3 linked regions of the Homo sapiens genome follow. The protein of the gene in region 2 purifies or fractionates together with the protein of the main gene of each other region. This does not show direct contact. Each region holds a gene or a part of one and is shown on either strand. Other genes may lie near its edges.

Region 1 (3,723 bases), on a different chromosome or scaffold from region 2:
CCTGAGGTCAGGAGTTTGAGACCAGCTTGGTCAACATGCTGAAACCCCATCTCTACTAAAAATATAAAAATTAGCCGGGCCTGTTGCGGGTGCCTGTAATCCCAGCTACTCGGGAGGCTGAGGCAGAAGAATTGCTTGAACCCGCGGGGCGGAGATGGCGCCACTACACTCTAGCCTGGGCAACAGAGTGAGACTCCTTCTCAAAAAAAAAAAAAAAAAAAAGCAAGTAAAGAATGAAGCAACAAGAGCAGAGATTTATTGAAAACGAAAGCACACTCCACAGGGTGGGAGTGGGCCAAGCAAGCGGCTTAAGGGCCGGGTTACAGAATTTTCTGGGGTTTAAATATCCTCTAGAGGTTCCCACTGGTTACTTGGTGTACACCCTATGTATATGAAGTGGCTAAAGTGAAGTTACAAAGTCATTTACTGGGTGTACACCCTATGCAAATGAAGAGGATGTTTCCTGCCATGCTGAAATACAAAGCTATTTACTTGGACTTAGAAGGTTGGGGTTTTTCCGTTTAATTTAGTTCTAGGAAGTCCTTAGGTTCCCTGCCCCCAGACCCTGTTCTCCTGCTTCACAGGGGTCATGCTGTGGGCTAGTGGGAGAACAGAAACAAGGACCCAGGTCTCCCACCAGTTAGCCCAGTGCTCTCTCTCCTGCACTGTGGTACCTTACAGCAAAACTCCTGATGGAAAACTGGCCATGGAGTGAGTCTGTTCCAAAGTTCAAGGCAGATAATTGCTTTGTACATGTACATATGAAAGAAGCCGGAAAGATCATGTTTGGAGAAATATAAGGAATTTGGTATGTCTGCGGTATAGGATCCATGACGGGAAGAGGTGGAAGATGAGGCAGGAAAGTCGGAGAAAGTCCAGTATACACACAAAAAGTTAGGATTTTATCCTCTATGTGGTGAGAATTATTGGAGGATTTAAAGCAGGGGAACAAGATCAGATTACATTTCAGAAAGATTCCAGTGCATGGTAGAACGTGAGCTGGGGAGGGAGAGGGAAAGGCAAAGGCAGATGGGAAACAGAGACCAGAGAGGAGACTATGGAGGGCTTGACTACGCAGTAGCATGGGTGAGAGGAGCCAGGGGAGTCAACTGCTGTTGAGCACATAAAACCAACAAGGCTAGGTGCTCACCTGTTTAAAGGGCAACAGAGAGGAAGATGAGTCAGGGACTATCATATTGCCATATTTATAGAGTGCTTACCAAGTGCTAAATGTATTTCATCTCATGCAATCATCCTAACAGCCCTGTACTATTACCAATCCCAGTTGACGGATGAGAATACTTAAAACACAGAGAAGTAACTTGCCCAAGAGTATAATGCTATTAAGGGTTGAAGCAGGAATCAAACTAGAAGGTGAGCTTGTAGCCACTACATTATTCCCATCTTAGTTTTCCACCAGGGGGTTACCGGGTAGATAATGACTCTATTAACCAAAATGGAGATGTGAGAAGTATGTACCCCTCCCCACTACACCCCAAACTTTGGTAGATAAGAGGGGTGGGAATATGACTTTTTCCATTTGGGACATTCTGAATTTGAAACAACAAGTGGAAATGTGAGTCTGGAGCTTGAAGCAGAGATGGCCTCATTTTATAGGTGAGGTAACCGAGGTAGAAGTTAACCAACATGCAACCTCCTTCCCAAAGCTTTGCTTGAGCAGTAAGAACTTGGGGTTTTGAAAGTAGAGAGAAAATTTTAAACTGAACAAATCTTTCTAGGGATGTTGAGGTCTATATATATTTTGGTTAATGTAGGAGTCTCCTGAAGAAGGTAGAATATTCACTTTGGAGATACCAGTATAATTTGATTTTCACTGAAAACCTTCCTCTGTTGATACTTTGCTGATGTAGAACAAAACATAACTCTAATCTTTGTCAGTATAATTGTTCCCAGTGCAACAGTGGAGGTAGATTTTAATGATCTGTGAGGAATCTGCTATCTTGTTCTCCTTGGGCTGGCCTCTGAATTCCACCAGGAGTCATCCCTAACATGATGGCTACCTCAAAGGCCTTCCATGTTCATTTAGTACCATAAGCAATGGTGGTGAACTTCAAGCTTATGGTTCCCTTAACCGTGCTGTGTTGTGTATTTTCAACCCTTTTCTTTTTTTATGAACAAGTGAACCAAACCTTTTTCTATGAAAGCCCCAACCATTTTAAAGAGCAAACAAAACTTGTTCTGTTGGTTTAGTGCCTCCTCCTCTCCCATTACCAAGCAGTAACATAATCTCAAATCTTCAGTATCAGCCCACTGAGCTTTGAGAGCTAAGGGTACTTTACAAGTTAAGTGTCCAGAAGCACCTACCACCACGTTCGTAGACCACCGACTGACTGATCCCAGCAACTGGCATCACTGACCTGCACAGCCAGGCTTGGGGCACCCCAGATCACACATGCTTCCACTTTCTAAAACCAGGTGTGTTGCTGTCATGGGAAATCTAATTCCAGTCCGAGGGCACCATTACTGGGAGGTGGAGGTGGATGAGCATTTGGACTACAGAGTTGGTGTGGCCTTTGCAGATGTCCGTAAACAGGAGGATCTGGGAGCAAATTGCCTCTCCTGGTGCATGAGGCACACATTTGCATCATCAAGGTAAAGTAAAATCTGGATACTCACAATTAAAATTTGCTTTTGAAAGATTACAGCAAGACCTTTTCACTAGCAATAATTAAGACACACGTTATATTTTACAAATATTTTAAGATATTTCAGGAGTTGCTGCCAGCCACTTTCCCTAAAGTCCAAGTAAGAGGAGAAAGAGCAGCTTTTCTTCAACTAAAAATAGCTAAAATTTATGGAGAATTATGTGCCAAGTACTCTTACATGCATTATCTCATTTACTTCTCACAATTGTGTTATCTCATTTGAAAAATCAGAATGCTGGGTGCAGTGGTGTGCACCTGTAGTCCCAGCTACTCAGGAGAGTGAGGTAGGAGTATTGTTTGAGCCCTGGACTTCAAAGCCAGCTTGGGCAACATAGCAAGACCCCGTCTCTAAAAAAAAAAAAATAATAAAATAAAAAAATAAAATAAAATAAAAGAATAAAAATAAGAAGACCACACCTCACAGCAATTAGATAATCCAAACGACATGGATTTGGAACTTGGATTCAAACTCAAGCAGTCTGGTTCCAAAGATTTCATTCCTAACCACTTAAGTGATAGATTTTTCATTTCTGTTCACCTTTAGTATTAAGCCAATACAGTTTGCTTTGAAGCCCCAGTTCCATCTTTTTAAGTAAATGTGGGCAAGAGGCTTAGTAGTTATGGCTAATTCTGGTTTGCTCCTGCTGCTGGGCACTCTGTCTTTACACATGGAGTAGTTCCATATAGTGGGAAAAAAAGTCTCACGAAGCCCAGGCCAATGAATACACTTTCAGACTTAGAAGGCCATGGTTACAACCTTCCTTCACCTCAAAAACTGAAAAACAAGACCCCACACTGCTTTCCTATCACACCTTGTAAAATGGGGCCTCTGACCCTCCTTGATTTGATGAATCCTATTAATGTTCATCCAATGCTCTCTGCCCATGATCCTCTATCATGGTTATTTACACATTATGTGTCATGCCCAAGCATAAGTGGGAAAACCAACTTCCCCTCCGATAACAGATGAAGACTCTAATGAAATCTACTAAACCTCACACCCAGTTTGGGGAATCCAAGAATTACTATACACTGAGGCAGATACTTTATTTGGGGA
Region 2 (3,723 bases):
ACAGAGACCCAGAGAGATGGGGACAGAGACCCAGAGAGAGAGGGACAGAGACCCAGAGAGAGAGGGACAGAGACCCAGAGAGATGGGGACAGAGACCCAGAGAGAGAGGGACAGAGACCCAGAGACATGGGACAGAGACCCAGAGAGAGAGGGACAGAGACCCAGAGACATGGGACAGAGACCCAGAGAGATGGGACAGAGACCCAGAGAGAGAGGGACAGAGACCCAGAGAGACGGGGACAGAGACCCAGAGAGACGGGGACAAAGACCCAGAGAGAGAGGGACAGAGACCCAGAGAGAGAGGGACAGAGACCCAGAGAGATGGCGACAGAGACCCAGAGAGAGAGGGACAGAGACCCAGAGAGATGGGGACAGAAACCCAGAGTAAAGGGGAAACAGAGACCCGGAGAGACGGGGACAGAGACCCAGAGAGAGAGGGACAGAGACCCAGAGAGATGGGGACAGAAACCCAGAGTAAAGGGGAAACAGAGACCCGGAGAGACGGGGACAGAGACCCAGAGAGAGAGGGACAGAGACCCAGAGAGAGAGGGACAGAGACCCAGAGAGAGAGGGACAGAGACCCAGAGAGAGAGGGACAGAGACCCAGAGACATGGGACAGAGACCCAGAGAGATGGCGACAGAGACCCAGAGAGAGAGGGACAGAGACCCAGAGAGAGAGGGACAGAGACCCAGAGAGAGAGGGACAGAGACCCAGAGAGATGGGGACAGAAACCCAGAGTAAAGGGGAAACAGAGACCCGGAGAGACGGGGACAGAGACCCGGAGAAACAGGGACAGAGACCCAGAGAGACAAGGACAGAGACCCAGAGAAAAGGGGAAACAGAGACCCGGAGAGACAGGGACGGAGACCCGGAGAAACAGACAGAGACCCAGAGAGATGGGGACAGAGACCCAGAGAGAGGGGGAAACAGACCCAGAGAGAGGAAGACAGAGACCCAGAGAGACGGGGACAGAGACACAGAGAAAAGGGGAAACAGAGGCCCAGAGAGACAGAGACAGAGACCCAGAGAGACAGAGACAGAGACCCAGAGAGACGGGGACAGAGACACAGAGAAAAGCGGAAACACAGACCCAAAGAGATGAGGACAGTGACCCACAGAAAAGGGGAAACAGAGACCCGGAGAGACGGGGACAGAGACCCAGAGAGAGAGGGGGACAGAGACCCAGAGAGAGAGGGGGACAGAGACCCAGAGAGAGAGGGGGACAGAGACCCAGAGAGAGAGGGGGACAGAGACCCAGAGAGAGAGGGGGACAGAGACCCAGAGAGAGAGGGGGACAGAGACCCAGAGAGAGAGGGGGACAGAGACCCAGAGAGAGAGGGGGACAGAGACCCAGAGAGAGAGGGACACGGAGACAGAGGGAGACAGAGACAAAGAGACGCAGAGAGAACGGGACCCCCTCAGAGAGAAGATAGGTGGGGCGGAGGGGACAAAGAGAGCCAAGACAGGGATGGGCGGAGGGGCCAGGGTTCAGGGCGGGCGTCCCGGCTCCACTCTGGAGCCCCGAGCATGCAGCCCCCTGGTGCCCGGGCCCCGCCCACAGAGGCCCGCCTCACATTGCTGTGCTTGCGGCCGGCCCCCGTGAAGTCCAGCTCTCCGTAGGCATCGGTGGGCTTCTCCGTGGTGTGTGCATCGCTGTCCCACACGGTCACCACGGCTGCCCCGAAGGCATCCTCCATGGCCACTGCGGGGTGGGCGGTCCGGGGGCGCCCACACTGGCACAAGGTCCCTCTGGGGGTGCGAGGGCGGAGCGTGAACCCAGGGCTGCCCCCCGACCCCAGCACCCTGTCAGCGTGTTCATGCTCCTGTAGAGGGGGCTGTCGACACTGAGTCCACACCCACAGAGGCAGGCAGAGTCCACGCTGCCCCTGGCCCTGGCTCTGACGGCCTCGGGGAGAGACTGGAGCCGAGGACGGTCCCCTTTCCCCACGGGAAGGAAGCCAGTGAGTCCAGAAAGCCTGAGCAGGAAGAAGCAGGTCACTGTCACCTGAGGAGCCTCAAGTGGGAAGGCAGAGGGCCACTGGGGGTATCCTTGCTGTGCCCTGTGCCCCCATCCAAACACATGACGTTCAACACGAGAAAGAACATCCAGCGGGTAACTCAGGGAGAGCCCGCATGCTCGGGGCTGACGCGGCTGTGTGACTTTGGGCGAGCGGCTTCACCTCTCTGAGCCTAAATTTCCTCCTCTAATGAAAAGACAATAATAGCGCGGCCTACTCCACGGAGCTATGAGGAGCCAGGGAAAGAACGCCGTGTTTCCTGAAATGAGGCTCGCATACCAGTCCCAGCCAGAGGCAACGCGACACGAACTTCACACGGAGCTTAAAATAACCTTGAATAACGCAGTGAGAAAGTCATTCCTTTTTCAGTTCTCCTGACGACTGTCAAGGAGAGAGGCTCAGCCGGGTGCTAGAATATTTTTGAATGCCTAACCCTTTGCTACTCTTTTGAACAAGAAAAGCAGGCCTCGGGCTCAAAAAATGGAGCTGGCAACAGCCATCTAGCGAGTAGGGAAACACCTTTGTTTGCTTTTCATTGTCTTTGGCTTCTGTGTGGCTTGTTTCTTCCTCTCTGTGCCAAATGGAACAGGTTTCCATTTGGAAAGTTTCCACATATAAAACTTTCCCCCACCTAAAGAAATGCACAAGTCTCTCTTGCTTTCTAAAGGTGATTGGCACCTGAGTAAGTAACAGGGGTTTGGAGAATGAGAAATTCATTTGAAAATGTAGGGTCGGGTATGATGGCTCATGCCTGTAATCCTAGCACTTTGGGAGGCTGGGGCCAGAGGATCACCTGAACCCAGGAGTTCGAGACCAGCTGTGCAATATAGTCAGACCCTGTCTCTAAAAATAAATAAATAAATAAAATAAAATAAAATAAAATTAGCCAGGTGTGGCAGCATGTGCTTAGGAGGCTGAGGCAGGAGGATCACTTCAGCCTGGGAGATCAAGGCTGCAGTGATGCAGAGAGCTGTGACCACGCCACTGCACTCCAACCTGGGCAACAGAGTGAGACCCTGTTCAAAAAAAAGAAAAGAAGGAAAGAAAAGCAAGCAAGCAAGCAAGCAAGCAAGCAAGCAAGCAAGCAAGAGGCCGGGCGCAGTGGCTCATGCCTGTAATCCCAGCACTTTGGGAGGCTGAGGCGGGTGGATCATCTGAGGTCAAGAGTTTGAGACCAGACTGGCCAACATGGTGAAACACTGTCTGTACTAAAAAAAATACAAAAATTAGCTGGTCGTGGTGGCGGGTGCCTGTAATCCCAGCTACTCAGAAGGCTGAGGCAGGAGAATTGGTTGAACCCAGGAGGCAGAAGTTGCAGTGAGCCATCACACTATTGTACTCCAGCCTGGGAGACAAGAGCGAAACTCCATCTCAAAAAAAAAAAAAAAAAAAAAAAAAAAAAAAAAACTAAGGAAAGAAAGGAAGGAGGGAGGGAGAGAGACAGAGAGGGAGGAAGGAAAGGAAGGAAGGAAGGAAGGGAGGGAGGGAGGGAGGGAAAGAGAGAGAAAGAAAGAGAAAGAGAGAAAGAAAGAAAGAGAGAGAGAAAAGAAAAGAAAAGAAAGAGAAAGGAAGAAAGAAGGAGAAAAATGTATCTAAATTCTTTGTTCCAGATTCCAGGAGTTCAGATATCAGGGGAGACCTGTATTTACACAAACCTAGTGAGCAGATTTAAGAGCAATTTTACAGAAGGGATAGCAGAGGTG
Region 3 (3,500 bases), on a different chromosome or scaffold from region 2:
ATTTGACACTTCTCCTCTGCTGCTGCCCAGACAACAGTATCTTCTTTCTTCTACTCTTCCACTCTTGTCCACTCCCGTCCCCATCCACTCTATCCAGCTGTCACAGTTATTCTTTTAAAACAAAAATCAGGCCATGCCACTTTCCTGTTCAAAGCCCTCATTGGCTTCCTATTATACTTAGAATAAAATATAAAGTCCTTCCTAACCTACAAGGAGCCATATGATCTAGCCTCTGGTGCCTGTTTGACCTCATTCCTCACCATAGCTCAGCGTGGGCATGCTGGCTCCGAAGGCTTCTTGCTGTTTTTCAAACACATGCAGCCTTGCTGGGACACCTGGATAGCTATAAGCAAAAGAATGGAGCCTGGACTCCTACCCCACTCAACAACCTAAAGATTAGAGCTGCAACTATAAAGGTCTTTGAAGAAAACAAAGGGGCTTGGACTTGACAATAAATTCTTATATATGGCACTAAAAGCACAAACAAAAGGGAAAATAGATAAATTGGAATTCATCTAAATTAAAAACTTCTGTGCATCAAAGGACGTTACCAAGACAATGAAAAGAAACCTACAGAATTGGAGAAAATGTTTGCAGATCATATATCTGATGAGGGTCTAGTATCCAGAATACACAAAGAACTCTTACATCTCAACAACAAAGACAAATGACCAAATTTTAAAAGGTGGCAAAGGATTCAAATAGACTTTTCACCAAAGAAGATATACAAAACGGTTAACATGCATATAAAAAGATGCTCAGCATCATTAATTTCAAGGAAAATGCAAGTCAATACCATAAACCCACCAGAATGGCTATAATAATAATACTAATAATTTAAAAACCAGAAAATAACAAGTGTTGGTGAGAATGTTGAAAAAATAGAGCGCTCATACATTGCTGGTGGGAATGAAAAATGGCACAGCCTCAGTGGAAAAGAGTTTGGTTGTTGCTCAGAAAGTTAGACACAGAATTAGCATATGACCCAGCAATTCCACTCCTAGTTCTATATCCCAAAGAACTGAAAACAAGTATTCAAACAAATACATGCACATGAAGGTTTGTAGCAGCACTGTTCACAGTAGCCAAAAGGTTGAAACAACCCACATGTCCATCAACAGATGAGTGACAAAACAAAATGTGGTCTCTCATATAATGAACTACTATCCCGCCATAAAAAGAAATGAAATATTGATACATGAAAACATTATGCTATGTAAAAGAAGCCAGTCACAAAAGGCACATACTGAATGATTCCATATATGTGAAATATCCAGAATAAGTAAATCTGCAGAGACAGAAGATGAATTGGTGGTTGCCACAGGCTGGGGAAAGGGGAGAGAATAGGGAGTGGCTGCTTAATGGGTATAGGGTTTCCTTTTCAGAGATGAAAATGTTTGGAACTACACAGAGGTAGTGGTTGCACAACACTGTGAATGTACTAAACTACCCTGAACTGTCCATTTTATAATGTTTAATTTCCTGTTAGCCCAGCTCAAGCCCTGGGCTCTGGCTGTCCCTCTGCCTGTGAACAGAGTTCCAGAGTCCTCCCCAGAGTTGTTCCTGGTCTGCCTTCCCTATGTTCAGGTCCCTGCTCACAAAGTCATCTCCTGAGGGGTTCTTCCTGACCTTCCCCCACTTAAAGTGTCACTGCTCCTCATCCACCCACCCATCTACACATGCAACAGCAAATTCTCACTCACCTTTCACAGCCAGGCTTGGCTGTTACCTCGAGCCCTAGGCAGAACTAGCCACTTCCTACTAATGTTCCTGCGGCCCTTTACAGTGCAGGGATCTGTCTGCTCACCGTGGCTAGAGGCTAACCCTTCCTCAAGGGCGGAACAGGTCTGTGTTCCCCAAAGTACCGGCCCAGGGGCTTACTCCCCAGCACCAAGCAGATGCTTGCTAAGAGCCTGCTGCTTGAACTGAAGGTAGTTGGTTCCTTCAGAAGGAAACGACTGTGTTGCTGCTTAAGAAGGCATTGCAGTTCCTTAGGACAAAGCCACTCTTTACCCTGAAGGGAGAGAGTATGGCTACAGTGTTAACTGTCCGGGCTCCCTGCCCAGCTGGCCTGGAGGAGCCAGGGCTACAGAAACCTAAGCCTCACCTGGAGCTCCCAGAAGATGCTGCGCGTGTGGCGGTGGTAGTAGTGTCTCAAGGGAATGTACTCCAGGCCCTCTCGGTTTGTCTTCAGATAGTTCTCCACATGCTTAAAGAACCACGGCTTGTAGTAATTGCCAATGCTATTCAGCTGAAATGACAGAGGGCATTGTGATCAGCCTGCAGACAAGCGCCCAGCACCATCGGGGTGTAACAGCGACACCCGGCTTCTGTTCAGCACTCCTGGCCTTTTCAAAGCTCTTTCATGTCTATTACTGCCTTTGAGACTCTTGAAAGCTGGTGAGGTTAGGCACAGCGGGTATCCTCTAGCAGAGAGAGCAGGAGCTCAAAGAGGTTAAGTGGTGTGTGCCCAGGGCCAAACAGTGAGTCCCCGACAGTCTAGAGAACTCAGCGACCCCGCCTAGCCTGGTGCAAGTGTTTAACAGAGTTAAACATTTAACTGCCCTGATGCAGTGCCCCATGCAGGGGAATTCCCTCCCTCCCTCCCTTCCCACCTTCCCCAAGGCCAGGGAAGCACGAACTCTGGGAATGGGTCAGCCCCTCAGTGCAACCCAGGGCTCATGGCACCAACTGGTCATGGCACTTTCCCTGCTGTCCCTGGACCAAGCTCCACAGTCCTCCGGGTACAGCACTCCCCAGGCAGCCACCATCGTCTGGAGGATGCTCACATGAATAAGGCTCATACCTCCCTGGCCCTGGGGGCTCCCACACCCAAATCTTCTATTGAGCTGATGTCTCCTGCAGCCCTAAATGGTCATGACTCAATGTGCTGTGTGCCTTGGGATGGCTGAGCTTCTCCTGGCCTCAGCTTCCTCATCCATAAATGAATTCTGGCAGATGCTCTCGGGGAGAGGCAGGGGGGATCCTGGAAAAGCACAAGCTTTAGGGTGGGCAGCTGGGGACACACCCAGGCAGGTCATCTCTGAGCCTGTTTCTTCACATGTAACATGACAATAAAAATACATACTTTGTGGGAGTTATTTGTCTATTAGAAATTACATACATATGCCCACTGTTTTTAAAAAATAGGACCATCTTTTTTTTTTTTTTGAGACAGAGTCTCGCTCTGTCGCCCAGGCTGGAGTTCAGTGGCACGATCTTGGCTCACTGCAAGCTCCACCTCCCTGGTTCACGCCATTCTCCTGCCTCAGCCTCCTGAAAAATGGGACCATCTTACACGTACTGTTTGCCAATTTGCTTTTTCCATTTACAACACACTTAGCAGAGCCTAGGCAGGTTACTTAGCATTTCTGGAAGACTAAAAGAGATGATGTAGAAAGTGCCAAGCACGGTGCCTGGTCCACAGGTGGCTGAAGTATCAGTCCCCACCCATTCCCTTGTTGACCTGCTCTACCCTACAGCCAGGCAACCCTTTGCCG

What was found.
Region 1: the proteins of TRPM4 (region 2) and FSD2 purify together in Homo sapiens (co-immunoprecipitation; one large-scale study listed by IntAct). This does not show direct contact.
Region 3: the proteins of TRPM4 (region 2) and DHCR24 purify together in Homo sapiens (co-immunoprecipitation; one large-scale study listed by IntAct). This does not show direct contact.

What each region holds. Positions count from the first base shown.
Region 1 is NC_000015.10:82,760,992-82,764,714, reverse strand, and holds part of FSD2 (fibronectin type III and SPRY domain-containing protein 2), read left to right. Parts: intron 1-2,436; coding exon 2,437-2,613; intron 2,614-3,723.
Region 2 is NC_000019.10:49,164,069-49,167,791, reverse strand, and holds part of TRPM4 (transient receptor potential cation channel subfamily M member 4), read right to left. Parts: intron 1,752-3,723; coding exon 1,577-1,751; intron 1,571-1,576; exon of another isoform or gene 614-1,570; coding exon of another isoform or gene 1-613. UniProt on the Homo sapiens protein: Calcium-activated selective cation channel that mediates membrane depolarization. While it is activated by increase in intracellular Ca(2+), it is impermeable to it.
Region 3 is NC_000001.11:54,863,196-54,866,695, forward strand, and holds part of DHCR24 (delta(24)-sterol reductase precursor), read right to left. Parts: intron 2,252-3,500; coding exon 2,108-2,251; intron 1-2,107. UniProt on the Homo sapiens protein: Catalyzes the reduction of the delta-24 double bond of sterol intermediates during cholesterol biosynthesis.